2 separate regions of the Homo sapiens genome follow, and region 2 is linked to region 1. Evidence: fine-mapped QTL for protein levels in blood plasma. A gene starts in region 1. The other region holds a variant in brackets. All regions are shown on one strand. Distances are from middle to middle. Region 1 holds the start of ADAM23 (ADAM metallopeptidase domain 23). Region 2 overlaps ADAM23 (ADAM metallopeptidase domain 23).

Region 1 (15,347 bases):
ACACCTACAATGTATAAAAGTGTTTTTAAAAAAGCTCTCTAGGTGATTTGAATGTGCAGGGATCGAGGATCCCTGCAAAGAGCTGTGAATCTTAGCACTCTTACCTCTAAGGTGGGGCTCCTAAAAACAATAACAGTAACTGCCCTGTGTCACAATGTTGAGGATCACGTAAAATAATATAGACAAAAGCACTTTGCAGTGTGTAAGTGCACAGTAATAATTAAAGCAGGCATTGTTAAAGGACTTAGCCATTGCTATTATGCAAGCGGATGGGATTACATTAGCATATTAATTCTGTCTGCTGGGGTTCTAACCTTTTCATATGCAATTCAGCTGCTATAGTTTAGCCCCCACTCCCACCCCCAGTAGGACGTGGTAATTTACTTCTGTAGAAACTCCTAGTGCTGCTCTGTGACCCAGTGAGGACTTAATGATTATGTGTTGACTCAGCGATTATTCTTAATAAACACAATTCTTCCAAGTTTTGCAGAGCACATATTATCACCACGAATCACCATGACATGCTCATGTATCCCTTTGTGCCCAGCTTGTAAACACACAAAACTGTTAGATAAACAAACCTAATGTTTTAGAGTGGGGGAAAATCAACTGTTTTCAAATTTATCTTATACTATCTGAATTCCTAATTAAACTCCTTTTAACATAATTTCCTTTAAGAACTCAATTTTAGGTTTCTTCTGTGGTTACCTTTCTTCGGATATTTTCATGCTCGACATTGTAACACATTTTTGTCTGTTCCACTACTCCCCTAGAAATGTCCGTTGCCATTGGTCTTTTGGTATTGAATACTTTTTCTTTTCCCAGTCGTGTTGAAATTAGTCACACAGTGACTTTTGAAATTGTCCCACTTTGTCCTGGTCTTCAGAATGAGCAGTGGTGTAATTAACACAGACCTGCAGACTTGCAGACTAATTTTCATGAACTTGAAGGTTGCCTGTGACATGGGGTGTGGCTCTGTGTCAGGAGTGTGTATCCCCTGCCGCATGGCCGCTCTACAGGATTGAGTTTGAGGAACACAGGCAGATCCCAGATGGTGACAGGCTCTGGGAAGGACTAGAGTGCATGTATTACTCCATTCTCTGACCACTCATGGCTGTAGCATCCATTCAGCATCCCCTACTCACAAGAAAGTATAGCTTGGAAAAACAAAAGAAATGTCTAGAATCTTTTTGACATCTGTATTTTTTTTTTTGGTGAATGATTTCTGACTTTTCTCCCATTATCATCATCTGAGAATTGGCTTCAAAAGGAGAAATACTTCTTTCCTAAGGGATCCCTTCAAATGATGAACATCTTTTGAGAATTTAGTGACTACTTACTGATTAAACAACTATCTAAATTACAATGGAGAGCAATCTTTTCTAGAATTAGAGCCCTCTATATTGTGGCACACGCTTCCTTCGCTTTTTCTGCTTATATGCACAGGACATAATACAGTTGATGAAAAAAATTTAACCTTACATATATATATATTTAAGGTGTATATATATAGTATATATTATAAGGTATATATATTTAAGGTAAATATATATATATATATATATATATATAGAGAGAGAGAGAGAGAGAGAGAGAGAGAGAGAGAGATTTAAAAATGGCTAGCTGACAAACCAGGTCCTGTAGGCTGCATGGTTTTCACATTCTTAGAGGTTTGTAAAGAAAAAAAAATGCAGCAGAGACCATATGGCCCACAAAACCCAAAATGTTTATTATCTGGCCTTGTACAGAAAATGTTTGCTGACTCCTGAACCACGTGGCAAGTACCAATAACGAAGCACACTCGCTTTTTACTTTCATGAAGAAATGCATTGTCTTTTCTCCTTTGAAGTATCCACTTCCGCTGGTAAAATCAGTCTTCACAGCTATTCTAAAAGGAGGCTGAGAAACCTTCTCTAGCTGGCTCTGTAACACAGGCTGTCCCAGCGAGCTCCTGGGTATAAGCTGCTCTTGAGCCAGAGCTGCTGTTTGAGGCTTGTTCATGCTCTTGCTTTCACTCCCTAGATCTCTCTTAGTATCAGCACCATCCACTAATTTGCTGCACACCTTCTTTGACCTTGACTTTTTGGGCAAATGCTTATTCCATTCCAATTGCTCTTGTAAGTCTGCTTTGCTACCTTCCCCTGCTTTTTTACTTATTTTACCCTCTGGACCTCTCTTCTGTCATCCCCTTCTTCTACTTTCTCCCCTAGCATCTCAGCCCTCTTGAGGCCAAGGCCTGCTACATCTAATATTTCTATTTCTGTCCTTTGCTTGCTCCTGTCCAGACCCAGTCTTCTCACTGGTTGCAAAGTGGGTCCAGTTCTACCACTGGAAACAGATTTTGGCAAATAGAGACCTTCTGATCTCCTCCCTCACCAGACCAATGGACCATTTTTGTGAACAGTATGACGACCCTTCCTGGGTATTGCTCACATGCACCCCTCATGGTGCTTACCTAGGGTCCATATTGCCTGGTGTAATTTCCTTCCCATGGACCTTCTGGCCACCTGCCTTCACCTACGACTGCAGCATTTCTCCATGTCTGCCACTGTGACTAGATCACTCCAGTGATCCTCTGATGGCCTTAGGATCCAACACACATTGGTAACCAGGGCCATTATAGCACTCAAGCTTCTGGTATATTTCTTTATTCCAGTCCATCTTGCTGAATCCCTCTGTTTCCTACCTGTGAGTGCCCCTCTATGAATGCTGATTTGATTCCAGGTACTATACTAGGCTGTGGAGTCAGAGATGACCAAGATACAGCCTTGCTCTCAGTATTTTTTGATGGAAGAATGATGATATGCACATACACGAATACAGAGCAAAGCAGTAGGTGGCAAGTGATTAAGCAAGTCACTAAATCTTATGAAAGCACAGAGGGGAATATTTAGAAGTAAACTCTATAAAAATAAAAATTCTGAACTACCTAATAAGAATATTACTAACTCTACCAAGTTGACCAATTAAATTATTTAATCAGTTAATATTTGATTCTGTTTTTAACCTTCCCTTAAATATATGGCTTAAAGACTAAACTTCCAGTAAATTTTTTCTAAGTAATGTACTCTTTCTCTGACTCATTATTTCATTTATTGATATCTTATTTTGACTCTAGCAATGTCTGTAACCATTAAAGTTCTGTAAATAAATGCAGTCTTTTGACTATAGTACATAAGACAACATCCCTCTTTGTAAATACCCCAACCCCTTATTAGAAACTATATTGAGGCCAGGTGCGGTGGATCACGCCTGTAATCCCAGCACTTTGGGAAGCTGAGGTGGGTGGATCACCTGAGGTCAGGAGTTTGAGAACAGCCTGGCCAACATGGTGAAACCCCGTCTCTACTAAAACTACAAAAATTAGCCGGGTGTAGTGGCACGTGCCTGTAATCCCAGCTAATCCCAGCTACTTGGGAGGCTGAGGCAGGAGAATCGCTTGAACCTGGGAGGCAGAGGTTGCAGTGAGCTGAGATCGCACTACTGCATTCCAGCCTGGGTGACACAGCAAGACACCATCTCAAAAAAAAAAAAAAAAAAAGAAAAAAAGAAACTATATTGAATCCTCATTCCATACCCCAAGTGCATGAAATGATGTGTTGTAACTGGTGGGTGGGTTTGGTCAGTCCAGGTTGGCTGATAGGTTTATTTATCAGAACAGACTTTAAGAGGTTGTCACTGAATTGCAAGAGATGCCTTTCAAGTAACTTGCATCTGGGTGCTTTGCACCTTTCATTTCCCTCTCCCTTCTCATTGCTTGTACATCTCCTTTCTGGCTTGCTTTCTCTCAGGCCCTTTTTCAGGATGCATATTGTGTCAAATATAAATTTGGAAAACCTAGCCAGAGAATACTTGACTTGAGGGAGACAACCCTAAGAACATTGACCTGCAGTGGGCACTCCGGTGGGGCTAGAGTGTTCACTAGCCTGCCCCAAGTGTGACTTCTGCTTGTGTGTATCACCCATTTCTTTATTCATTTAGTACATATTTTCCAAGCGATTTCTCTGTGCCTCAGACACTGTGTGAGGTCCTAGGGACACAATGGTGTGCAGAAGGGAAAACTGTTGTTGCCCTCACATGGGGGAGGTAGCAACAATTACAAATTTACAGGAATAAATATGTGATAATAATATCCTAGCTCAACATAGAAAGGAAGTTATCTCAGTATTTACCTAACAGTTTTGTAATGTGTGTGTGCGCGCGCGTATATGTCTTCTTCTTTTCTCTTTGTTAAGTGTGAGTGGAGAAGATGATGGCTAACACTGAGTTCTGTCATGGCCATGGCACTTTTATACCCACATTCTTTCTTTTAATCATGGAATTCTCCACCCCAGCCCTCACCCCGTGGATGTCGGAGTAAGACAACATTGTTATCACTCAGATTGTCATTGGGAGGGTGAATAAATGAATGCTTGCATTATGAGAGTTTGGGGGCAGAAATATGCCACAGACTCTTATCTGAAGCCATCAGATTTAGTGGCTGCGAACCCACCGAAGTCAGGGATTTACATTTTTTACAGCAACGAGAGAAAACTTCCCCTTTCCTCTGCAGAAGTCAGGACTGGATCTCAAAAATAGAAATGTGTCCTCCTAAATGTGTGCCCATCCCCGTGGTTGACAAACAACGGATTTCCCAAGATAGCTGCCACACACTTGGTTTCTAATCTCTGTATTGCTTCCCCGCCAGAATGTCGAAGTCCTTCCCGAATATGCCCAGTCATACTTTCTGAACTTTTGAGCAAACACCGTCCGGCTTCTTGTGCTTTCCTCAAAGACCCCAGGCACCGGCAGGGAGGACACAGGCCGGGGCAGAGCGCCCCTGCGCGGGGGATTCCTGCCACTCCGCGCCAGCCTGCGGCGCAAACGCTCTTCTCAGCCGCAGTCCCACCCGCTGCTGGCAATCTGAATGAGGAGCCGCGCTATTTTTACCTCCCCGGCTGCAATCCTTTATATTTACATGCAGGAAGCAAATATATAAGGGATTAAGAAGGAGATGCGTGGCCTTAGTTTATCCAGAGCAGGAAGAGGTTGGAATAGGAGAGGGTATGTGAAGTCTGGGGTGGTGGAAAAGGCAGGTGGACTTCGGCTGGTTGTTTTCTCCCGATCATCCCTGTCTCTGGCCTGGAAACCCCCGTACTCTCTTTCTTCTGGCTTATCCGTGACTGCCGGCTCCCCCTCCACCGCCCCCATCTTTTGAGGTACCACCCGTCACCTCCGATGCTGCTTGGGCTGCTGCATCACTCTGCTGCTTTACCCCCTTCCCCGCCCCCCAACAAAGCATGCGCAGTGCGTTCCGGGCCAGGCAACAGCAGCAGCACAGCATCCAGCAACAGCATCAGCACCCGAAGCCCCGCTCGGGCGCGCTCTCGGGGGGCGGGGCGCACGCCCGCTCCGCGCGTCCCCGCGCCGCTCGCTCCCGCGCGTCCCCGCGCCGCTCGCTCCCGCGCGCCGCCTCAGCATCCTCAGGCCCGGCGGCAGCCCCCGCAGTCGCTGAAGCGGCCGCGCCCGCCGGGGGAGGGAGTAGCCGCTGGGGAGGCTCCAAGTTGGCGGAGCGGCGAGGACCCCTGGACTCCTCTGCGTCCCGCCCCGGGAGTGGCTGCGAGGCTAGGCGAGCCGGGAAAGGGGGCGCCGCCCAGCCCCGAGCCCCGCGCCCCGTGCCCCGAGCCCGGAGCCCCCTGCCCGCCGCGGCACCATGCGCGCCGAGCCGGCGTGACCGGCTCCGCCCGCGGCCGCCCCGCAGCTAGCCCGGCGCTCTCGCCGGCCACACGGAGCGGCGCCCGGGAGCTATGAGCCATGAAGCCGCCCGGCAGCAGCTCGCGGCAGCCGCCCCTGGCGGGCTGCAGCCTTGCCGGCGCTTCCTGCGGCCCCCAACGCGGCCCCGCCGGCTCGGTGCCTGCCAGCGCCCCGGCCCGCACGCCGCCCTGCCGCCTGCTTCTCGTCCTTCTCCTGCTGCCTCCGCTCGCCGCCTCGTCCCGGCCCCGCGCCTGGGGGGCTGCTGCGCCCAGCGGTGGGTATGGCCCCGTGCCCTTTGCGTTGGCTTTCCCGCGGGGCCCTGCAGAGGAAAGCGAAGGGCGCGCGGGTCCGTGTGCTCCGGGCTTGTCCCCGGCTCGGCCTTTCCTTCCCTCCCTGCCTGTCTTTCCACCCTTCTCGTTCCCAAACCCCCATTCATCCCAGTTCACTTTTGGAAGTCCATTTCTGTTGCATTCGCGAAAAACCCATTCCAATTCTTGTTGGTTCCACTGGGAGGTGTTTAGTGGATCCTGGGTCCCTCAGCGATCTCTGTGCAACTTGCGGAGGGGCAACCAGTGGATGGGAAATACAGCGAGGGAGCAAGTTGCTACTTGCGTGGTGGAACCTTAATGTGAATGCGGGGAGGATGTAGTGATAATAGTGGTAATGGGCTGTTTCCTCAAATTTCGTATCCGGCGCATTCAGTGCGGTTGGAATTAAGGTGGGGGAGGCACACTTCGGGGACCAAAGAATTAAGGTGCTGAAGACATACTTCATGCACGACCTTTGGTTCTGATTTCTCAAAGTGCTTGTCATTATAATGAACAATTAATATAATACCATCTTCTATATATTGATGATTGGAAGTCACTGAAAGCAGAAAGCTGGCTTTGTCAGGAAAATAAAAAGAAATTGGGAAGCTGCCAGCATCTGTATCCCTACATGGCAAAGTATGTTTGCTCATCTTAAAGTTAAAAGAGAAGGGAATTGTCCATTTTGTTAAAAGAGTCGATTAATATTCGGTATCCATAAATTCAGTACTCAAGTTATCTTAGGAGCGTTCTTAGCTCTTGGATGGGATGCCACTAGGCAGAGTAGAGTTGTGCTTCTGTGGACTCAGAGAAGGGGTGGAGATCGGGGGCAGGACCCCTGAACATGTTCATTTAATGACTCTTCTTCCCTCAAGTTCATTCTACCCCCCCCCCAACACTTAGAAGTATAGATTTGAGTCTGACTAGAAATGTATATATAAGACATAAATCAAAATAAATAGTGCACAGTTGTATAAGCCTTATTGGCTATTTATTAACTTCTCCAGGCCATTTTATTGTTGAAATAACTTGCTTTACTCTAGCTCTACTTCTTAACTGCTTATAAATAGAAAACTTTGTGTTTGAAATTAAAGGAAAAATGCATTTTAGTGCTTATGTATTTATGGGGTAAATATGTGTGTGTTTGTGTATGTTTGTATTTTCTGCTCCCCCACCCCCCTACCTCCACCAGCTCCGCATTGGAATGAAACTGCAGAAAAAAATTTGGGAGTCCTGGCAGATGAAGACAATACATTGCAACAGAATAGCAGCAGTAATATCAGTTACAGCAATGCAATGCAGAAAGAAATCACACTGCCTTCAAGACTCATATATTACATCAACCAAGACTCGGAAAGCCCTTATCACGTTCTTGACACAAAGGCAAGACACCAGCAAAAACATAATAAGGTAGGCAGGAGGCTGGCTATGCAAAAGTAACTATCATGAAGAGTTTTCCTTTGATTTGATTTTCTGCCAGAATCTGAGTTCACAAATTTTACTGCAGCATTTTATTAAGAAAGCAATTAATATTATGATAGGGGAGAAACTGGAAGGAATTAACTTGGGATCTACTGGGATAAGACTGTTGTTTCTCTTCTCTGACTAAACTGGAACTAGAATTTTCTGATACCTGAAATGATATCCATGTATCTTTCAGGTACATTGGGCACTGAACAGTAGTTAAGTGAATGTGTTTATGATTCTAACTTGTTTCTGTGAGGCTTTATGTAAGGGTGCAGTATTCTGCCTTGATATAAAACTGTCTCCCATGATATAAAAACTGCTTTCAATCTGCACATGCAAGATTGCTTCAAGAAGCTATTTGGCTGCAGTGTCTCCATCAGTCTTTCCACTTAGAAATTGAGTGTTTAAACAGTCTGTTTCTTTAATTGATCAGTAGGAGGAAAAAAAAATTTTCTGTTGTATTTTCAATAGGTAAACAATTTGACATTTAAAAAGATTATGGTGACTAGACACAAATTATTTGCATAATATGAAGACCAATTTTGATTGGCATAATTCTTCAGTACCTACTCTGCATTGATTATGAGCAGTTGCTTTACTTTCAGGTTAGTTCAGAAAGTGGAACTGATATTTACCAAGGTATCAGTAGAAGACAAATGTTTAATATCCAAAGAGTTTAAGGGATCTTTTTCCCTGTGTTACTATTCTTTACTTGAATTAATATTATTTTGAACCCCGAGCAGATTTAAACAATGGATTATCGGTTCTTCTGTTGTTTATCGGGAGCAGAAAATAGAGTCTGTATGTTAAATGTTTCATTTTGATCTGTACTTGTTCAGGTGAGAACAACAGTTAGCAATTAACTGTCTAAACATCTAGAATTTAAGAAAGTATCTGCAGTTTACATCATTGTTTTTTATTAGTTTTCTAAAATATAGGTGAGTGGTAACAGTATTTATCCCCATTTTACAAATGGGGAGCTAGAAATTTAAGGCTTTTGGGTGATTTTCCTATGTTGTAAAGCAGCTAATATAAAATTCAGGTGACCTGAATGTTTAATTTTTACTATTTTTTACAAGTTAGGTCTCTGAGAAAGTGCTTTCTTCACCTTGAATATTACTGGAGAGGTGAACTTTCTTTCACATTATTTTGAAGTGGCTGCTACCCACCGTGAGATAAATGTGTCTCTGTTCTCAGCCAGCCCTTTTCTCCATAAGCTCCTATATAACTTAATGGGGTGACTAATAGGTCATGTCTAACTCATTTGTCTTATTGATAGGAGAAATGGGTGTTGTCTTTAAAGAAGAGAAATCCAAGGCCCTTTTGATAAAATGCATTGAGGCTTTTATAGCTTTCCTTATGAATGAGACCTTTTAGAGTTAAGTGGTTAGTTCTCAAACTCCAGCACCTTTGCTTAGGATGCTGGAGGAAGGAAAAACAGCTGCCTCAAAGCCTGTTTCAAAGAATGCTCAAGCCCTCCTCAGCAGAGACTTGAAATTTCAGTGGCACTTTTTAATAACTCAGATGTTTGAGGCTATGACTAATGCTTGCCTTATAGTTTAACCTTATGTGGCTGTTTTCTTTGGTGGGACGTGGTTTGACTGTAATATACCTGACTTCCGTGATAATAAGGTTTGTTAAACCTGTACCCACCGCTTACCTAGAGGAATAGTTGGGTTTCTTTTATACTGTACTTTGAAAAGAATGTTTCTACAGAAATCGTATTTGAAAGCATTTTTCTTATTAGTTTAACTCTATAAACATTTGTTGCACCTTTCTCATATGCAAGCGGTATGCTAAGTATTCAAAGATAAGAGATAAAGGTTAAAAGGATGAAAAGACATGATCTATCCTCCAGGAGGCAGGAAAATGAGATAAGCAAGATTCTAAAAGTGCTCCCGTACAGGTATAGACAGTGTTGTTGTTTGGTGGGTGCCTTGAAATTACCCTTTGTGTTCTGTGACCTCCCTTTTACTTCTGTTTTTAAGCATCTCTTGAAGTAGTTGATAAAAAGTGTTCCATCTGCTTTCTGCTGTATCTTAGGATGACTTGCTTAATAACAGTGATGAGAGACACTTGCCAGTTCTGCTGCTTTAGAAATGTTTCAGTAAGAAAGTATAGAATTTCATTTCTGCTTTTATGTAAAGAAGTTTTTAATATCTGTGTTATGTACCTTTTTTTCCCTCTCCTGATTTCATTGCACTGAAGCACATTTTAATGAAAGCCTTAGAAATGCTGAATCACTGTGCCTTTCTCATGGATCCCTAGACTGGGGGTAGAGGTGGAAATGGAAATTCCCAAATATAGGTTGCAAGGCCAAGCTCCACATTTATGTCTGAAGAAATTTCGTAAATGTTCAATGTTGATCAATCTTTATTACTTTATAGCTGTGAAAGTTAACATGTTTATTAACTCTTCCAGAATTGGTGAGTGTAAAAGCAGATTGTGCAAACCACCTCTTTGCATCCTAATGTTTCTGAATGCCTTAATGTTTCTTTGTCAAACAATGTTGAAAAATCTTTTTTATCTGCATAGAGTGATGTATAACCAGTTGTCCAAACTGTGCCATTTTTTAAAGTAGAAGTGGGCACTCCTAATAATTATGCCAGGTTAGTAGGCATAAACCAAGGTAGTCTAGAGCAGGCAGGGAGTTTTGACACCTTGGATCCAAATGCTGTATTCCTTGATTTTTGGTGCTTACTCAAATTCAAGATTCTTTAAAGACAATTTTATTTTCTGATGATTTATTATAAATTCTTTCTTGCTAGCTAGGAAGTCAGATTCCTGCCGTGTAGCAGTATTAGGGTCTGAAATGGAAAAATTTAATTTTGCTTTGTGTGATATTGTGAAATGTATTTGGTAATTATCCTGTTTCCTGGTACACAGCTTCGAAGACCGTTGGAATCTCCAGAGTGATGAGTGTCTTTCATATGCCAATGAGATGATGGGTGGCTGGGGGTCCCTAAATAGCTTCAGGATGGGAGCTGGTCACCAGAAAGACCAGCACATTATTAGAGGTTTGGGATTTGCACCCCACAACCCCAAAGAGAGAGGCAGAAGGTTGAGTTGATCACCAATAGCCAGTGATTTAATCAGTCATGCCTATGTAAGGAAGCATCCATAAACACCCAAAAGACTGGGTTCTGGAAACTTTTGGATAGCTGAACATGTGGAACTTCCTGGAGGGTGGAGTTCCTGGGGAGGGCATTGAAGATCCTCGCCCTATGTGTCTCTTCCATCTGGCTCTTCATCTGTATTCTTTGTAATATCTGTTATGTAAATGGTAAGTGTAAGTAAAGTATTTCCTGAGTTCTGTGAACCGCTCTAGCAAATTAATTTAAGGGAATTGTGGCTACCCTAGTTTATAGCTGATCTGTCAGGAGCACAGGCCTCCATCTGGGGCTTGAGATTGGCATCTGAAGTGGGCATTTGTAGGCTTGTGGGACTAGGCCTTCAACCAGTGGATCTGACGCTGTCTCCAGGCTAAGAGTGTCAGAATTGAATTGGAGGACATCGAGGTGGTATGTGATGGAGAATCTGCAGAATTACTTGGTGTGTGGGGAAAACCCTCCCATACGTCAGATGTCAGAAGTGTTGGGTTAAGTGTTGTGTGAGACTAGAGAAGGAAAAAACATTGCTTTTTTCTTATATCTCTTACTTTGTTATCAAGATCGATCGTTTTCACTTGTGGAGACTTTTATGGGCGTAAATGGAATTGTATGATTACTAAATATAAGCATTTTATTAACCATTAATGCAATATATTAATAAAATGGACCATACATTTTAAAAGCAGGAGAAACACTTTAGATTCATTCATTCATTCTGAGATAATCCTATGTGGTCTGTTCCTAGGAGAGTTAAGGAAGCTTTTCCTGAAACTTTAGTCAAAAACTACTTGTCCTGCTGGGCGTGGTGGCTCATGCCTGTAATCCCAGCACTCTGGGAGGCTGAGGCGGTTGGATCACCTGAGGTCAGGAGTTTGAGACCAGCCTGGTCAATATGGTGAAACCCCATCTCTACTAAAAAAATACAAAAATTAGCCGGGCGCAGTGGTGCGCACCTGTAATCCCAGCTACTCGGGAGACTGAGGCATGAGAATCGCTTGATCCCGGGAGGCGGAGGTTGCGGTGAGCGTCACTGCAGTCCACCCTGGGCCACAGAATGAGACTCTGTCTCAAAAAACAAACAAACAAAAAACCCCCCTAAAAAACTACTTGTCCTATATCATGCTCCCTTAGGATTCTCGTCTCTTCTGGTTGGGAAGGGATTGTGGAGATGCACGATGCATAGCACCGGACCTTGGGGAAAGCTGACTTTAGTTGACCTGTGTGGCTCAGTCTTTTGCTTTCTCTACTACCTACCACCCCAGGTTGAAGAGAGAAGAGAGAGAAGTTTAAGTGAATTTAGATCTTGGTGATTATTTTTGTTTCCTTCTCTATTTTAGGATAGGACTGGTTCCACATTTCTTGACTTTCCAGAAACCAGTTGTTCCATTGTTGTTGGTATGGGACAACAGAAAGAGGAACATAGGATGAAGACTCCCACCTGTCTCTGCCATGAGATGTTAGCACACGTTTTTACAATTCTGGAACATAAATTTTTATGACCTTTATTATAAGGAATTAATTTTAAAAATCAATAGAAAGTTTTATACTGTGGAACATGGGGAAAAGATTTCCCTTCTGGAAGTTTCTTTAGCAAGCCTAGACTTTATCTAAAGAGCTGCCTTTATCTAAACAGCCTTCCCAAGTTTTCCAGGTCTTCCTAAGCAGTCATTACAAAATTGTAATATATAGAATTCAGGCTTGTAATGATTTTACTTGTAATGCTTGGCATGTAGTAGGCCTTCTGTGGAATGAATTGATGATTGAACACTTATATGTTAGAGTATAGGGGTTCCCATGGAATTCATGTTATAATCAAACTAAAATTCAAAAGGACCCTCAAAATACTCAAGTATTTTTGGCACTGTGCTCCTCACTGCTACTGAGGAGAGATAATTTTGGTCTTGAGTTTTTAGCACTGCATAAGTCACACTAACTATATGCTTACACTACCTAAAGTAGCAAAAATGCCTGTATCAACAATTCTTAGATAATGTCTCTCACTGCTACCCATCATTAATGTGATTGTGATAATCAAGAGCTGGTAGTTTTTGTTATTTTTATGGTGGAGCAAGATGTGTCTTTCTACTCAAATAGTTTCCAGTAAATCAGATTTACACATAGTAGGTGTTCAGTTTTGTTTGATTCAGCAGACATTTATTGAATACTTCTTTTGAATCAGGCGCTGTGCTAGACTCTGGGGAAAACGAAGAAGACTAACACTTTGTCCCTACCTTTGCTCACTGGTGGAGTGTCAGAATCAAGGTAGCCGCTGATGTGTGGTTTATGTTAGTGCAGTTACTAGTGGAAGGAACAGAAGGCTGTAGGCATCCAAAGGAGAGAATAACCGTTGCCTAGGGAAGTCAAAGAAAACCTCATAGAGGAAGAAGCAATTGAGCTGGCCCTAAAGAGTAATTAGGAGTTAAGTTTGTGCAGAAGGTGGAGAAAGGAAGAGCCACAGAATCGGCAGAGGAGAGGCTCCAGGTGCAAAGGCCTGACTTGCTTGGGTAGTAGCAGGTTATTTGGGTGGTGAGTGCAAGAAGGGGAAACTCAAGTGTAGGAAACTTCAAAGACAGAGTCTCACTCTGTTGCCCAGGCTGTAGTGCAATGGCACGACCTTGGCTCACTGCAGTCTCTGCCTCTCGGGTTCAAGCAGTTCTCCCACTTCAGCCTCCCATGTAGCTAGGACTACAGGTGTGTGCCACCACACCCAGGTAATTTTTGCGTTTCCAGTAGAGATGGGGTTTCACCATGTTGGCCAGGTTGGTCTTGAACTCCTGACCTCAGGTGATCCGCCCACTTTGGCCTCCCAAAGTTCTGGGATTACAGGCATAAACCACTGTGCCTGGCCTAGTGTAACATTTGTAATCAATTTTTAAATATCCTACTTAGTTCCTCTAAGAACCCAGTGACATAGGCATTTATAGACATAGCAGTTGAGATTTATAGTTAGTATCTTCAGTAAGGACAAATAGCTAGTAAATGGCAGAGAGAGCCAGGATTTGAATCCAGGTCTTCCCTTTGCAGAGCTCATGCTGAAGAGAGGTAGGGTGTATTGGGAGTGGCAGGAAGTGAAGGTGGAAGGTTGTGAAGACTGTGAAGACACAAGGGGGTCTGGATTTATTCTATATCAAACTGTAAGTCCTAGGAAGTCAAGAGATGAGCGCATATTGATTGAGCATAGATGAGTGCCAATTATGTGGCTCCCCAGCGAGCTTTACTTCTAGTAGGAAGAGACAGACCATAAACATGTCCAGAGCAGCAATGACAACCACATGAAGATTTTAGGTATTGACACGTGCTTGCAGAAGATAAAAAGGCATAATATGGTAGAGAGTGGTGGGTGTGATGATTTCTCTTGAAGAATCAGAAGATTGGGCTTACGGCCCTGGATGGGAGTAATTCACCTAGGGAGTAACCCACCTACAGGTAAGATGTGGCTCCTCTTTAGATAGGATGACACATGCTGTTTACTGCAGTGCCCTCATTCTTTGTTGCTAACACTAACCCTTCTGCATTTCTGGTCCCTTTGGGCATTTGAGTTTGGATCCTTGTCTTTGATTATTCTCTTCCATAAAGTCTAGACCATTTTTGGACATTTCATCCTGGTTTGGTCCAACTGCTAACTGTGCTTTCCAGCAGCCTACAGCTGAGCTGTGCTGTTGAAAGTCTTGCTTCAGCATGTGTCCCTAAATAATGCTTTCTGCTCACGGGTTGACTCATTCCTGCTAACTATGTAACTATTAGTGTCATTCTGTCTTCACTTATTCTCAGGCTTTGTTAGCAGGGTGGACCACTGTCCTTCTCTTTACAGTTGGTGAAAAAATAACCCAGGAGGCCAGGTGCAGTGGCTCACACCTGTCATCCAGGCATTTTGGGAGGCTGAGGTGGGAGGATCACTTAAGGCTAGGAGTTTGAGAGCAACTCAGGCAAGCTAGCCAGAACCTGTGTCTACAATAAGTTAAAAAAATTAAAAAGAAAAAATAACCCAGGAGCATTTGCCCAATGGTGATGCCCTGTGTGAAGGTAAATCATGCAGGAAGAGAGCTCTCCTTCCTGCCTTCCTCATCTTTCTCAGCCATGCCCCTCAGTTTTCCCAGCTATCTAAGAGTGAACCTTGGGAGTCATCTTTGACTCCTCCCTCTCCTGCCTATAAATAGTCGCTGATTAAGTCTTGACGTGTCTCCCATGACTCCATCCCTCCCCTCTTCTCTGCATTGTGTTCTTGTCATCGCCTCTGGTCTCTCTCTCTGTCAATCCATCAGTCCCACTGCTGACAGATTAATCTTTATGGAACACTTATTTCATCATGTGACTCCCTTTATCCACATTCAGCAAGCATAATTTCAGCTAGATGAATTTTCCTCTTGGAGCCAGGGAGAGGATGTAAAAGTCTCTTGAGAAGAACTGCTGCTTTCCTTCTTACACCACACATTTGCTGTTCCCTTCTCCTTTCAGCACTTTTCCAGGCCTGTTTACCCAAAGGTCAGTCCATAGCAGGTTATAATTTTGGATGATTCTATTCATTTCTGTCCAAACCCTGGGGCTAGTTATAGAAAACCCCTGTGACCAGTGGCAAGAACCGAATCTATCAGGAATGTGTTCTTAGACTTTCAAGTCCAAATTCTGTTAAATTCCTGCTTCAGAACATCATGTCATCTCCATCTTTAAGATCTGAATAATTAATTGCTTGTAGAATATCAGTTTTCTAAATGAAAATATTTTATTCCTT
Region 2 (15,347 bases), 73 kb after region 1:
TCTTTATCAGTAACTTCCAGGTGTACTAACACTATTTATGTTCATTGTTTTACCAGTTTTTCCAGGAACATGGTATAGTTTTTTGAGCTGCAAATTCAAGTCTTTCTTTGATTTTAGGAAAGTTCTGTTCTGTTATATTTTTACCTATTTTTTTCTCTTCCATGTGTTTTATTTAGGAGTACCTACCAACAAGATGTATCTTTTATCTTTTTTGTCTATCATCTCTATACCATTTTATCATTGATTCCTGACTGTATTTTCGTTGTTTTTCCTTTTTCTAATTTGGGTTGCACCCTTGTACTATTTATTTTTTATTTCATTTTTTTCTCTCCTGAGCTTTGCCAGCTGCCTTTTCATGTTCTTTTATGATGTCTCTTTGAAGTCCTTTTACAAAAGAGGTTCTTTCTATAATTTCTTTGAGATCAGAGTATTTGAACATTTCCTCTGTTTTCTTATGATGCATATCCTTCATCTCCCCTGCGGTTTGCTACTTTCCTTCTTTCTTTTCTTCCTGGTTATCTGTGTTCTTTTCTTTCTCATTATGATTCTTCCATGCATGGGGACAGCTATTTGCTGAAGCAGAGTGTGGGGAGGAGAGCCAGTGGGGACAGGGAGGGAAGAGTGAGCCAGGGTTCCACAGCTTGTTTGGAGTTTGTTGTTTTGATCACTCTTCACCAGTCTGTTGTTCTCTGCCTTGGAGGGGTGCATCCCTCCCTAGGGGCATAATCAGGACAGTGGAGCTCATAGCAGAACCTCCTTGGAGCTCTGTGTGGCAAGCAGGCGTTTGAACTTTCACATTTCTTCACTTCACCCCTAGAAGGTCCTCTGACCTGTTGAAATTCTGGGGATGCATGTGTTGGCTTAGACTTCTCAGTATTTAGCTTTGTAGTTTTTAGCAGCTTGAAATTGGACTAATTTCTTTCTGTAGGGAATGTGTAGTAATTTTTTATTCCTCTTTTTTTATTCCTTTGTTGCTATTTATGAGGAACTTATCTGTGCAAGGAATCCAAATAAGGAAAAATTAATGATAGTCTAAGACAGAAAATGAGAGGGAAGGAAACATTTTCATTCCCTGGAAGTATTTTGATTGTTACATATTTCCCTAGGTATGTTACAGTGTCAGTGGCCTTGGATGACAAGGTAACGAATGAGGTTCTGTTAACTAGGAACATTCACTGAGGTATTCAACACTAGGTGCAGATGACTGGGATTTGGAATATTTAGAAGGTAATTTCAATGACATATGTGGTGAAATGTAGGTAACTGTAGGAAATGGTGTAATGCTTAGAATTCACATAAAAGAGATAAAGAGAACTGATAGCCACATGCTTATTTCATGAGATTATGGGTTTAAAAATTAGAATTACTTTCAATTTTCTAAACAAGCTGCTTAATAGCCTCTTAAAGGACGAACAAATTCAAATTCTTCTCTAGTTAAGAATTGTAAGAATGATCAGGCATGAGACACAGAAAAAAGGAAAAAAGCCTCATTATGCTATTACTTCACTCATCATTTCTGATTTTAAATTGCAGTTTAGTGTGGGTATTTAAATTGCTAGCTATTTCAAAAATGTCCTCTGGTTTTAGATACTATAATCAGCTGAAAAGGCTATTGAGTGCCGTTACATGGCCTCAAGATCTAAAAACTTTTGTATAAAAATAGAACAATTTATAATACTGATCTGACCCTCTGAGCATGCATGTGAAGACATTCCTAGAATAACCCTTTTTAGAATTATTGGATGTTCTAAATAGTCTAACAATGTAACGTATTGTCTTTGATGAAAAAATAGAAACTCTGAAAAAGACTTTTTTTTTGAGCAAAAAGCATCTGGAAGTGCCTTGAACTATATAAAATGAGTGCACAGATATACCTAGTTTTATGTTCTTCACTTAATTGTGCTTTGCAGATATTGTGCTTCTAACAAGTTGAAGGTTTTTGGGAGCCGTGCATTGAGCAAGTCTATTGGCACCATTTTTCCAACAGCGCATGCTCACTTCTCTGTCTGTGTCATATTTTGGTAATTCTCGCAGTATTTCAGACTTTTTCATTATTATTTAAATTATTATGATCTGTGATCAGTGATGTTTGATGTTACTATTATGGTTGTTTTGGGGGTACCACAGACTGTACCCATAGAATCCAGTGAACTTTATGGATAAATGTGTATGTCCTGGCTTCTCCACTGACTGGCCATTCCCCTTCTCTCTCCCTCTCTGGCCTCCTTATTCCATGAAACACAACAATTTTGAAATTAGGTCAATTAACAACCTTATACCGGCCTCTATGTGTTTAAGTGAAAGGAAGAGTCACATGTCTCTCACTTGAAATTAAAAGGTAGGAATTACTAAGCATAGTTTCAAGGCATGTTGAAAGCTGAGACAGGTTGAAACTGAGGCCTCTTGAGTCAGTTAGCAAAGTTGTGAATGCAAAGGAAAAGTTTCTGAAGGAAATTAAATGTGCTATTCCAGTGAACACAGGAATGATAAGAAAGTGAAACAGCCTTGTTGCTGATATGGAGAAAGTTTTAATGTTCTGGATAGAAGATCAAACCAGCCAAAACATTCCATTCAGTGAAAGCTGAATCCAGAGCATATCTCCCCTCAATTTTATGAAGACAGAGAGAGATGAAAAAGCTGCAGAAGAAAAGTTTGAAGCTAGCAGAATTTGGTTCATGAGATTTAAGGAAAGAAGCTGTTTCCATAACATAAAAGTGCAAGGTAAAGCAGCAAGTGCTAATGTAGAAGCTGAAGCAAGTTATCCAGAACATCTAGCTAAGATAATTAATAAAAGTGGCTACACTAAACAACAGATTTTCAATGTAGATGAAACAGCCTTCCTATTGGAAGAAGACTCCATCTAGGACTTTCCTAACTAGAGAGGAGAACTCAAAACCTGGCTTCGACGCTGCAAAGAACAGGCTGACTCTTGTTTGGTGATAATGCAGCTTGTGACTTTAGGTTGAAGCCAGTGCTCATTTAGCATTCTGAAAATCCTAGAGCCCTTAAGAATTATGCGAAATCTGTTCTGCCTGTGCTCCATAAATGGAACAACAAAGCCTGGGTGACAGCACATCTGTTTACAATATGGTTTACTGAATATTTTAAGCACACTGTTGAGACCTATGGCACAGGACAAAAAAAGATTCCTTTTTAAAATATTACTGCTCATTGACAATGCACCTGGCCACCAAAGAGTGCTGATGGAGATGTACGAGGTTAATGTTGTTTTTATGCCTGATAACACAACATCCATTCTGAAGCCCATGAATCAAGGAGTAATTTCAACTTTCAAGTCTTATTATTTCAGAAATACATTTTGTATTACATTTTGTAAAGTGATAGTTGCCATAGATCGTGATTACTCTATTGGGTCTGGGCAAAGTAAATAGAAAACCTTCTGGAAAGGATTAACCATTCTGGATTCCATTAAGAACATTCCTAATTAATGGAAGGAGGTGAAAATATAAACATTTACAGGAGTTTGGAATAAGTTGATTTCAACCGTCATGGATGACTTTGAGGGGTTCAAGAGTTCAGTGGAGGAAGTCACTGCAGACGTGGTAGAAAGACAGTAAGAGAGGAACAACTAGAAGTGGAGCCCGAAGATGTGACTGAACTGCTGCAATCTCATGATAAGACTTGAATGGATGAAGAGTTACTTAAGTGGTTTCATGAGATGGAATCTACTGCTGGTGAAGTTGCTGTGAACATTGTTGAAATGACAGCAAAGGATTTAGAATATTACATAAACTTGGTTGGGCAGAGTTTGAGAGGATTGACTCCAATTTTGAAAGAAGTTCTGCTGCGGGTAAAATGCTGTCACACAGCATCACATGCTACAGAGAAATCTTTCATGAAGAGTCAATCAATGAGACAAACTTCATTGTTGTCTTATTTCAATAAATTGGCACAGCCACTCTAGCCTTCAGCAACCACTGATCACTCAGTTCAGCAGCCATCAACATCAAGACAAGACCCTCTACCAGCAAAATGATTACAACTTGCTGAAGGGCTCAGGTGATCATTAGCGTTTTTTAGCAATAAAGTATTTTTAGATATAATGCTATTACATGCATAATAGACTAGAGTACAGTATAGTGTAAACCTACCTTTTATGTACACTGGGGAACCAAAAAATTGTGTAACTTGCTTTATTGTGATACTTGCTTTATTGTGGTAGTCTGGAACAGATCCTGCAGTATCCCCAAGGTATGCCTGTATCTCAGTATAGTCGTGATCATAGGTCTTGCTTTTCTTTAGATTCACTGTTGGTGTTATCATCCATGAATTTCACCTTCCTGTGTACAAACATCTCTTATTACAGTAGGAGAATATGGGAGTCAGAAAAGGAAGACATTTATTGTCATTATGAACTCAGAAATATGTTTTCTAGTGATCATTGAAACAACTGAGATTGATATTTTCCAGCCACGGCAGTTTTGGTGATTGAAAGCAAGATCTGTTTTTTAAAAATTAAATATAAGTTTGCACATTCTTCCAGGGAAGGGCACGGGATAATTTCCCTTGCCATTTTATTTTGAAACCAGCTTTGTTGTGGTGGCACGCTCCATGAGATTTGCTCCATGAGATTTGCTCCATGTTGCACCACACACAGTCTTTGCTCCTGTGTCCTTCCATAGAAAAAAACAGTGTGGGGAAGGATTTGGTTTGTCTTACCCTTTAATCTTCTGCTCCTACAGCTCTCTGGTCTGATAGTTCACTATTTTGGTAATAAAGTCAGATATAGTTCAAATCCTGTCTGGTCTATTATTTCGTGAAATTTTTGAACTTTTCCATGCTTTGGCATCCTCCAAGAACTTTTTCCTTTCTAAGTTTTACTGTTTTAATATAAATGGACTCCTATGTGAACACTTTTAGACTGGAGTCTAAAAGTGGCCTAATAGGCTTGCTATTTTTAGAGAAGGAGAAAGTTGCCTTTTGTTCTCTCTGTGCTTTTCACCTCCCACATGTTCTTTAGAGTTTTTTTTCCTGTTCTGGTCTTAGTAGTGACAGCTTTCTAATTCCAGAGGCTTTTTCCTGGGTCTGTTTCTGGCTCATTTTGTCTCATACTCAAAATTTTTAATGTCAGAATTGGGCTGGGCTCTTCTCTTTCTATTATCTGTAAACATTTTGGGTTTCTTTTCCTCTAATTTATGAAAATTATGAAATGTACACATAAAGGAGTGGAAAATATATTCACCCAGTTTAAAGAAGAGTAATAAAATGGACATTCGTATATACCCACCATCCAGGTTGAGAAATAGAACATTGCTTGTGTCTCAGAAGCTCTCTGTGTTCCTCTCAGTCACGTTCCCCCACCCCAACTCCTACCCAAGGTAACCTCTCATCCTGAAGCTTACATGGAAGATTTGGGCATTTTTATTAAAAAAAAAAAAAAGAAAGAAAAAGCCAAGTAGTGATAAAAAATAGTAACAATAGAATTTTCAGGAAAAAAATAAAGATAATGTAAATGCGTTTTTTTTCTAACATTCCACAAAAGAATAATTTGTTTAGGATTGAGGAGAGAATTAATGCTTGTCTTAGTCTGCTCAGGCTGCTATAGCAAAATTTCATCAACTGGGAAGCTTAAACAACATTTATTTCTCACAGTTTTGGAGGCTAGGAAGTCTAAGATCAAGGCACCTCAAGATTTAGTGGCTGGCAGAGACCCTCTTCCTGGCTTATAGACAAGCCACCTTCTTGCTGTGTCTTCATATGGTAGAGAGAGAGAGGGAGAGACAAAGTTCTTTGGTCTCTTCTTAAAAAAGAGAGGACTTCACCCCTTTGCCCTCATCTAAACCTAATTACCTCCTAAAAGCCCCATCTCCTAGTACCATCACATTGGGGGTTAGGGCCTCAATATATGAATTTTGGGAGGGCACAGACGTTCACTCTTGAAGGATTTCAGCTATTCGTGCTGTGTCACTGAAATTAGAACTAGTGTAAAAAGAAAAGTTCACGTACATATAATGCAAATATTCAGTGAGCTGGCAC[C/T]CAACCTACCCTTGTTTGATAAGGAATAATTGGAAATTTTCTATTTTGGCCTAGCAGTTTGAGGGCAGACAACTTCTTCTGACCTCATTTCCTCCTGATCATTGTGGACATACACCAGCAGCATTTCCTTGTCTTACAATAGTAAGCTTGCTAAAATAATAATAAATAAATAAATAAAAATAAAATAATAGTAAGCTTGCTAAAATAAAAAAACACGCTCGTACACACAACACATACACCTAAACACACGTATGCACTTTCTTTGTAAAGCTCTGTTTGAAATATACTAAAGAGGACTGTTCCTGAAGTAATCTTGCAGTCATGTCTGCTCTCATCCTTTGTTCTTTCAGCCTCACATTCCCAGTCTTCATGGGCTGACTGCCTGGGATTGACTTTTGCCTTCACAGATACTTATCTGCAAAAGATAGAGACAGAAAGTAGCCCGAGTCTCAAAGTTTTCTTGCTGCCACTGCCGTGTGCTACCTCAGACCCCTCATTGCTTACCTGGGGGCTAAGCCCTGCCTCTAGGACCCTCAGGTTCCTGTGGATTCCTGTCTTGAGTATGGTGTGCCATCTTGTTTTTTTCTGAGCTGCTTGACTTGTTGACTCTTCATCAACAAATGTTAGAATGCCTACTCTGTGTAGGCAGCTATACCAAGAACTGTGGATGCAATGTGGTGCCTGTCCTTTTTATGGGATGGTTATTTTGGAGAGTCTTGTTTGCTTTTCTAGTGTCCACAGGCTGGTATGATCTCTAGCCTTTATAGGCATTTCTCTTGACCCAGAATTTTGACTCTGCTAGACCACAAGCTTCTGGATTTTTCCTGGAGTGGCCACTTCATTTTTCTACCCCTGTCATGAGTTACCAACCTTGGTGTGGCTTTCCTGGATGTGAATCAGTTCATTTAGGACTTTTCTCATATCTTCTCTAGTCCTAACCATTCTGGTTCCTGGAACTGATACTGATAGTAAATTCGCCATAATGGACCATATACAGTTAATGCTAGCATTTCTACCAGGGTTCTAAAAATGTCTGGTTTTAAGATTAAATTAAAAATAGTCCCTCTGAAAGACCTAAATAGAATAGTTTCTCTCTTTTTCTGTGTCAGTCTCTTTGGGATTTGGCTGCTTCTGGAATCTTACAAAGGTTTTGCTTTTGATCCAAACACTGCAAGGCACTTTGTGAATGTGAGTAAGATAGTCTACATGGGCTGAAAATTTAAGACCATTTAATGAAAGTTGTCTGGCTGCAGGAAAAATGCTCATTTTTACAAATTGTCTTAAAGTTCTGATTTATAGATCTGTTCTGCATTTTTCTACTACCACTGGATTTTATTACTGGCACATTATATTTAATTAGGATAGAAGGAATGTGTGTGCTCATAATTATTTAAAATGATTTCAGGACATATATTTAGAGAATCGAGTGTAAATACTTAATAATAGTTAAAAGATAAAAATTCAGTTTTAGTATTATGCAAAATGTCTAGACTCTATAATTAGCCTGGAGTAGATTAAATTATGCACCTCTAATCACTATTTTATACATGTCTTTCAAAGTGACATCAATTGTCATCAAATTTGCTTATTATAAGATTTTGCTGGATGAGTACTTATATTTTCAGTATATTTATTTTTTAGTGTCTTTGTGATTAAAAACATGTTAGCATGACTCTCAGGTTTTTAAAATTTGTTTTAATTACAATTAAGTGATGGTTTTCTAATTGTGTTGTCTGATTTTCAGCAGACCACTTAAATAGTTTGGTGTTAATGCAACTGTGGCTTTAGCAGATCTTGATCATTAGCTCTCAGATGAATTTCTATGTAAAGGAATTTTGTTATCAATCTAATCTGTAGAAAGAGTGTATCACTTTACATCTTGGTAATTGGGGTACAGTCTTTTTGTTGAGGTACATAGAAATATGTAGAATTAGAAGAAAATTTCAGCAGCTCTTTACAGCATATAGGCAATACGAATAGAACTGTTCTTTCAGCACCTTCTGAAAAAGATGGGCCTGAAGTCATCCCAGTATGCAATAGCTGATTATTTGACAAAGCATGTATCAAATAGATGAAAATATCAAATAGACGTGTGTGTTAATAGTCCTCAACTTCCAGTTTAGCCTAGGTGTATATTTAAGGTAGGAGATGATGACAATCATACTCATATTCACTCTTTTAGACTTAGAAGTTTTCTTGGAGACCCTATAATTCAACATTCTTGGTTTTTGTAAGGGAGAAGACTAGTTGGACAATGTTAGTTACTTCTCTGAGATCTCAGAGATGGTCAGCTCCTGGGTGCCTGTTTAGTTCAGGCATTCCCCTGTGACAGGATATGACAGCACAGTGAAAAAGGGCCGGTTAGCACGCTCATAAACAACACTGAATCTGAAAGTCCACACCAGTTGGAAGAATTATCCTTTCCAAAGAAGCTACAAATGACTGATAGTTTTTCCAATATATTCTGTAATTTTCAGAGGTATCTTAGCTTGTTATTATTTTAAAATTGTACATAATTTAGAAGAATGAAAATTCTGTTTGTTAGAGAAATTAGTTGTGATTTAGGTAAGCAAAGCACAATCATGACTTTTTTTTAAACAATCGAAGTCCCAGTGAACAATTTTTGTGATGCTATGAAATGTGCTCAGAAGGTGGGCTTATTTGAAGGTCATTTTTCTAAATGATAACTTAAAAAAATAGTTGCCACTTTGTATGATAGTAGTTTTGTACCCACATGAAGAAAGCATTAAAAATTCTCTGTTCTCTTTCTCTTCTTGGTAGGTTGTGTTCTTATCTACCATACTGGTTTGAGATTACTGTAGAAGTATGTTTCTAATTGCTACATTGTGACAATTACTTAAACATATCTACTATTTAAGAAGAACCAGCCTGGCAAGGTGGCTATTTCTTCTAATACCAGCACTTTGGGAAGCCAAGAAGGGAGGATTGCTTGAGCCCAGGAGTTGGAGACCAGCCTGGGGAAGATAGTGAGACTCCATCTCTACAAAAAAATAAAAAAGATAAGCCACTCATGGTGGCACATGCCTGTGGTTCCCAGCTACTTGGGAGGCCAAGGTGGGAGAATTGCTTGAACCTGGGAGGTTGAGGCTGCTGTGGGTCGTGATATTTCTACCACCTTCTAGCCTGGGTAACAGAGCAAGAGCCTGCCTCAAAAAAATAAAAAATAAAAAGGAGCAAGATTATCATCTCTAAAGATTCCTGTGTTATATGTATGAAGGGTACCATGATTGCACAGAATATTGTTTTCTGTATAGTACAGAGAAATCAAGGGTGACAACTTCAAATGCCTTTTACTTTACAGGGTTGTGCAGACATGCCCTCAGTCTGTCTCTTGGGGATTTGCTCTACAGAGGCCCCTGTCTCAGTTCAGCCAGTAGATATATTCCAGGCTCAGGTTGTGGTGGTGCAGGAGAAATCAAGAGTTGGGCTTCTCCTAGGTAGGACAAAAAGAGAGGAAGAGAGCACACAAAAGACAATAGTAGTAGTTCTACAAAAATCTTACTCTTCCTTTATTAAAACAGTGTAAAATTACAAAGTACACATTAGCATTTGCATAATAAATTTTAGGACAAACATCTATAACTTACAGTGAAAGAATTTAAAGAAATGGCAACATTTAGTTAAAAACCTTTATCTTTGTTAATCATTTCTTTAATTCTCTTCTTCTTATTTTTTTCTCTCACTCAGTATCTTCGGCCGTTAATTGAATGAGTGGAGGACAGTTAAAGCCACAGGTTTTCATATGTGGAGAGGCTGCTCCTTAATGTCTTTGCTGGTCTCTTGCCGTTCTCTCCTGCTGCTAACATTAATTACTTTGCTGATGGCTCTAATTGACCCAGTAAAAGAATCTTATCTGTGTTCAGCCCTTCCCAGGTCCTGAAGTCTTTGCAGCTTCTGCTTGCTTTCAGCCTTTATAAATAGCCTTCCAAGTTCTGAGTTCTGGTTCTAGAGTTCCCTTTCCTTTGAAAGTCCTACCCCTTGCTTAAGCCTGTGGATCACTGTTTCTAAACCCACCTTTTCAACACTATTGCCCCATATCACTGATGCCCCAGCTCAACTGGACTTTTAGCTTTTCCCTGAATAGGCCTCTTTGCCTTTTCCTGTTTCATGGATTTGTACACAGTGGTCCCTGTCTATAGGATCTTCTCTTTCCTGCCCATATTTCCCTGTCCAAATTGTATCGTAGAGACTGCCTAAGCCCTGCTTCTTCACTAAAGGGTTCCCTGATCATATTAATTGAAATTAATTTTCTCCTTGAGGGCTGCTTGATGCTTTGTTTGTTATTTATGGTAGTAGGCTAACTGCTGCCTTGGCTTATTTTAGCAATGAGATTATAATCACCTTGACGGTGAGAGGCATTTTGTTTCTCTTTTTGTCTTTACCTACTCCCACCAGCTGATATTCAGGGAACATCTGTCTCATTGAGTTTAGGGGATGTAGGGAAAGCCTGGTCAGCTGCTGCTCCCTGCATGGTAGGTGGTGGTATTGTGAATGTCTGTGGTTCCTGGTGTTTCCTGGACTCGAAATTAGTCCTTAATTAAATAATTCCTTTATTAAAGGAACTATGCTTCTTTTCCTTTAAAAATATAGCTTGTATTGTGGTTTCGTCTTAAAATGGCAGTATACATTCATTGTAAAAATTTTGGGTAATACAGTTAAGCAAAAGAAAGAAAATAAAAACTCTTGAAAGTTCTGCAGGAAACAGTAGCTCACTGCTACATTTGGTATACACCTTTTCAGACATTTTTCTATATGTGAATGTATGTATATAAACATACTTCTAAAAAGTTGCCAAGCATAGTATTCTTTTATTTTTCTTTTCACTGAATGATGTTGTGAACATCTTTCTAAGTGTGAAAGCCTTGAAAGCTGCTCTCACCTACATCATGCATGTATTGTTTTTTGTCTAGTCATTTCCTCAGGAAACCCTTATGAGTGGAACTTGTGGATTATAGGGTGAACATGCTTTCAGGGCTTTTGATACCTATTGCCAAATTGCCCTCTGCATGCCAGTTTTCCTACATCCTTGCCAGCAGTGGCTACTGTCATTCATTTTTATTTTCTAAAGTGATGGGGGAAAACGATCTCTTTCATTATTTTAATTCACAGGTATTTTATTGCTAGTGCAGCTGTAGGTTGGTGTATGATTGATCACCATGAATATTTCTTGTTTTCTTTTTTTCATGAGTTGCATGTTGTATACATAATTCTTCATGTTTATTTAAATCCAAGTTTATTCATAGGTTATATATATGTATGTAAATATATATGTATGTATATTCATATATATATATCTCTGTGTACATTATACATATATAAATAAATTCAACTATATTTGTACACATATAAAATTTGTTGTTGTTAGTAGAAACTTTTCCCCCTAGATTATTTTTAGATGTTTTTTGTTGGTTGTACATCTAGAAATGTGTTTTGTTTTTGCATATTTATCTTGTAACCAGTCACCTTACTTAACTGTTATTATTTCTGATAGTTTTTCTGTTGGTTTCTTTTTTATTCTTTTGGCTATTTTATATATACCTAGGAAGAATAGAACACCATATAAACAGATGTGCAGTTTTTCTGTATAGAATGAAAAATGAAAAAAGTAAAGAAAAAAGTAAAAAAATGAAAAGAGTTCTTTTCCTAGAATGTGGCAAAAACTGGACTTGGAAGAGAGTAGTTTCTTCTGTACAAGGTTACCAGAAGGCAAAGCTGATCATGGATCCTCTTCTGTTCTCTGCAATTTCTCTATGTGTGATGCTTGCTTTATAGTTATGTTAATAAATATTGGATGTATCAGAAAAGAAGCTGGATTAGCAATAGTCACCAACTACATTCATTATTAGCTTTGAAATTTGTTCATCATAGCATTTCAGTGATGTGTAACTATGTGCAGAAGATAGGCCTTTTTTATTTGGATCCAGTTTTCCTTGTGTTTAATTTTTTTTTTTTTGGTTTTATGACATACGGGGGTAAAACTAGATTGTGAAAGTAACCATGATTCTGTCATAAAGGAATCTCAAAATTACTGGAAACTTGGAGAGACACTGGTAGCCACAACTAGAAATGTGTTATCCACTTCATATGGTCGAGCTTTAAGTTAAGGGGAAGAAACGAAACATCTTTCATCTTTTATTTAAAGATTTTTCTTCTGATACCACCCTCCTCAGAAGGGAACTCTCACTGGCTTTTAGGCTGATCAAGCCAGCTGAGTGAGGGTTCTCAGCTTTTATATCACCTCAAGTCTCCTAACTCTTTGTTTCTCCACTCTACAATTAGCTTGCAGGCCTGCCTATGTTTCCTGTCCTCATTATACTAGGGTTTTCTAAACTTTATTATGGCTAATGGGACCATTACCTGAGATGCAGGAGTACCTACACATTTACATTTCCACTGCAATCTCTCATATGGTTTAGGAGATCATTAAATTTCTCTTGTTACCCCCAAAGAAAAACCTCTATAACCTATTCATGCTAGGAACATTCTCTGCCTGCAGTTCTGTTCCTATGAAATGTGCCCACACTTACCAGCCCTTGCCGGGCATGCCATCTTTGTCTGACTTAACGCAAAGCCTCTATGCAACCTATAATTATTTTCACCCACTTAATATATCATTGCTACATGCTTAAATCCCAGCCTCTCCATGTCCTCGATCTTTTAACGTAGCTTAAAATTCTTACTGTATTGTTTACACTCAAAGGAGTGTATATTTTTTAGCTGAAACAACTTTTGGTATGAAAACTATTTTAGGTGGTATGAGTCTATTTTTTTTTTAAAACTTTAGAAAAGTAATGGTTGAAAAATTGTTATACTTTTAAAGTCTTCTGTTACAAAAAGAAAAGAAATATAAGAGCAAGCATAATTGTAGGATACAAGCTTATGTTTATATGAATGTATTGAGTTTAAATTTTGTGTCTGCATTACCACTTACAGTAATTATCTAGTGAATTTAAAATATCTTATGTGTATAAAAGGACAAAACAGAGAAGCTTCTAATGGAAAGAGGGAGCGGGCACGATGCTTCACTGTGGCTTCATGGAGCCTTGGGCATAACAATGTCACTACGCTCGAGGCTCCATGAAGTTGAGAGTCTCCGCAGTGACAGCATTGGTTGTCATTAAATGAATGAAATGTGTACCTGGAAGGAAGGGGTGGTAGGAGACTTCTTGGATGAATGTCAGCGCTCATTTAGGTGTGATTAGGGCTCCCAGTACTGAGAACTTAAGTACTTTCAAGCAGCAGATAATCAGATGACTGACTTTGCATGAGAAATATGGGCATTTGTGGTACTCCTTTTCTAGATATCATTTAATTTTTCTACTGTTTGTTTAACTTCTGTTCCAGTCCCAATTTGAACACATATGGAAGTAACTTACATGTTTTACTACTGAGAATTGAATTAGGGTATTTGTGCTACTGTTTACTTAGGAACAAAGATGTATGGCAAGGTGCATGGCTAGTCACCACCTGACAAGTTCAGTGTCTTGCAGTGAATGTGATCTCATAGCTTCCTGACTTCCACAACTTACACTGCTGACTCCTCTTGCCCAGATCCACCTACTGATGTTATGCACTGAGAGAGCCTAAGGCACCTACTCAAGGCTTTCCTAAAACAGTGGCTGTATTAGTCCATTTTCACTCTGCTAATAAAGACATTCCCAAGACTGGGTAATTTATAAAGAAAAAGAGGTTTAATGGACTCACAGTTCCACCTGGCTAGGGAGGCCCCACAATCATGGTGGAAGGTGAAGGGTATGTCTTACATGGTGGCAGACAAGAGAGAATGCGAGTCAAGTGAAAGGGGTTTCCCCTTATAAAACATCAGATCTCGTGAGACTTACTCACTACCATGAGAACAGTATCAGGGAAACTGCCTCCCATGAATCAGTGATCTCCCACTGGGTCCCTCCCACAACACGTGGGAATTATGGGAGCTACAATTCAAGATGAGATTTGGGTGAGGACACAGCCAAACTGTATCAGTGGCCATGTGAAGTATGATGACAGAACCCAAAAGCAACTGGAGGAGAGGACATACTCACAGACTGTTTGCTTACTAGAATCTCAGCTTTTGAGTATTTTCCACCTTGTAGACCAACCTGACCTTCCATGTAGAACTCGATGTGTATACCTTAAATTTGGCCTTTAGGTAGGGTGACCATATGCCCCAGTTTTCCCAGGATAGCCCTTCCTGGTTTATGTATGTCTGTTGTCCTGGCACAATTATTAATATGCCTCTTTTCATTTCCACAAATGCCCTAGTTTGGATGATAAATTATATGGCCATCCAGTTGTTAGGCCTTGGTGCTTGCTACTATTCATCTAGACTTTTTTTTACCTAGTTCTGCTGGTGAAGAAATGCTGTGTGGGCCTCTAGGTTCCTTCAGACAAGCTTGTTCTCAGCAACTCACTCAATTTCCTAGTTAGAAATAAACTGAGTGCTTAATACAAAATTTCAGAGAATACAGATTTTAAAACTAGAAAGGACTTCCAGAGACTGGTAGTTCAACCACTTTTTACAATGAAGTAAATGATTTTAAGTCATGTAGAAAAAATGATTTCCTTTGTGGTCCAATGTATATCTTTTCTAGTAGCCTTCCTCATAGCCCAAGGCCCAGTTAGCCACGTCGTCTTGTTCTGAACAATTGTTTTCTTTGATCAGCCTGCCCTTAAACTTTTCTGACCAGAATTACTCCAAAGAGAAGCATATTTTTGTTTGTTTGTTTGTTTGTTTTGTTTTATTCTGAGACAGAGTCTTGCTCTGTCGCTCAGGCTGGAATGCAGTGGTGTGATCTCGGCTCACTGCAACCTCTGCCTCACAGGTTCAAGCAATTCTCCTGCCTCAGCCTCCTGAGTAGCTGGGATTACAGACGCTCACCACCACACCTGGCTAATTTTTGTATTTTTAGTACAGATGGGGTTTCAGCATGTTGGCCAGGCTGGTCTCAAACTCCTGACCCTGTGATCCGCCTGCCTCAGTCTCCCAAAATGCTGAGATTATAGGCATGAGCCACCGCGTCTGGCTGGTTCTTTGTTTAAAGTAAGGGGTTCAAGTTATTTTCCAAAAAAACTGGATCTACTCTTCTTGGTTAATAGCTTTCCTAGATACTAGGGAATCTTGGTACCTAACTTTTCCAATTATTAGAATCCTTGGCTTCTCCATATGGAACTTCCTTGTAATGGAAGATATAAACTTTTGGGAGTTTTGACCACATGGCTGTTTATGTGTCTACTTACATTAGAAACATGAATCTCATATTCAAGGATTCCAACAAATACACACACACACACACACACACACACACACACACACACAGACACACACAGAC

Evidence for each region. A credible set is the group of variants that fine-mapping cannot tell apart. PIP is the posterior inclusion probability: the model's chance that the variant is causal. The UK Biobank Pharma Proteomics Project read protein levels with antibody pairs (Olink). The fine-mapping took linkage between variants from a reference panel, not from the people measured, so its PIPs are less certain.
Region 2: its variant is the best candidate, but not a certain one, in a credible set for the plasma level of the ADAM23 protein (UK Biobank, PIP 0.86).

What each region holds. Positions count from the first base shown.
Region 1 is chr2:206,438,074-206,453,420 of GRCh38, forward strand. ADAM23 (ADAM metallopeptidase domain 23) reads left to right here and starts at 5,459. Exons shown (of 26, transcript NM_003812.4): 1 at 5,459-6,007; 2 at 7,234-7,451. The coding sequence starts at 5,794. RefSeq lists a silencer at 5,904-6,033.
Region 2 is chr2:206,510,847-206,526,193 of GRCh38, forward strand. The region is part of intron 3 of ADAM23 (ADAM metallopeptidase domain 23); the gene reads left to right. Among named protein-coding and RNA genes, the nearest start is that of ADAM23, 75 kb to the left of the region's middle. The variant C/T (reference allele first, on the strand shown) is at 5,998.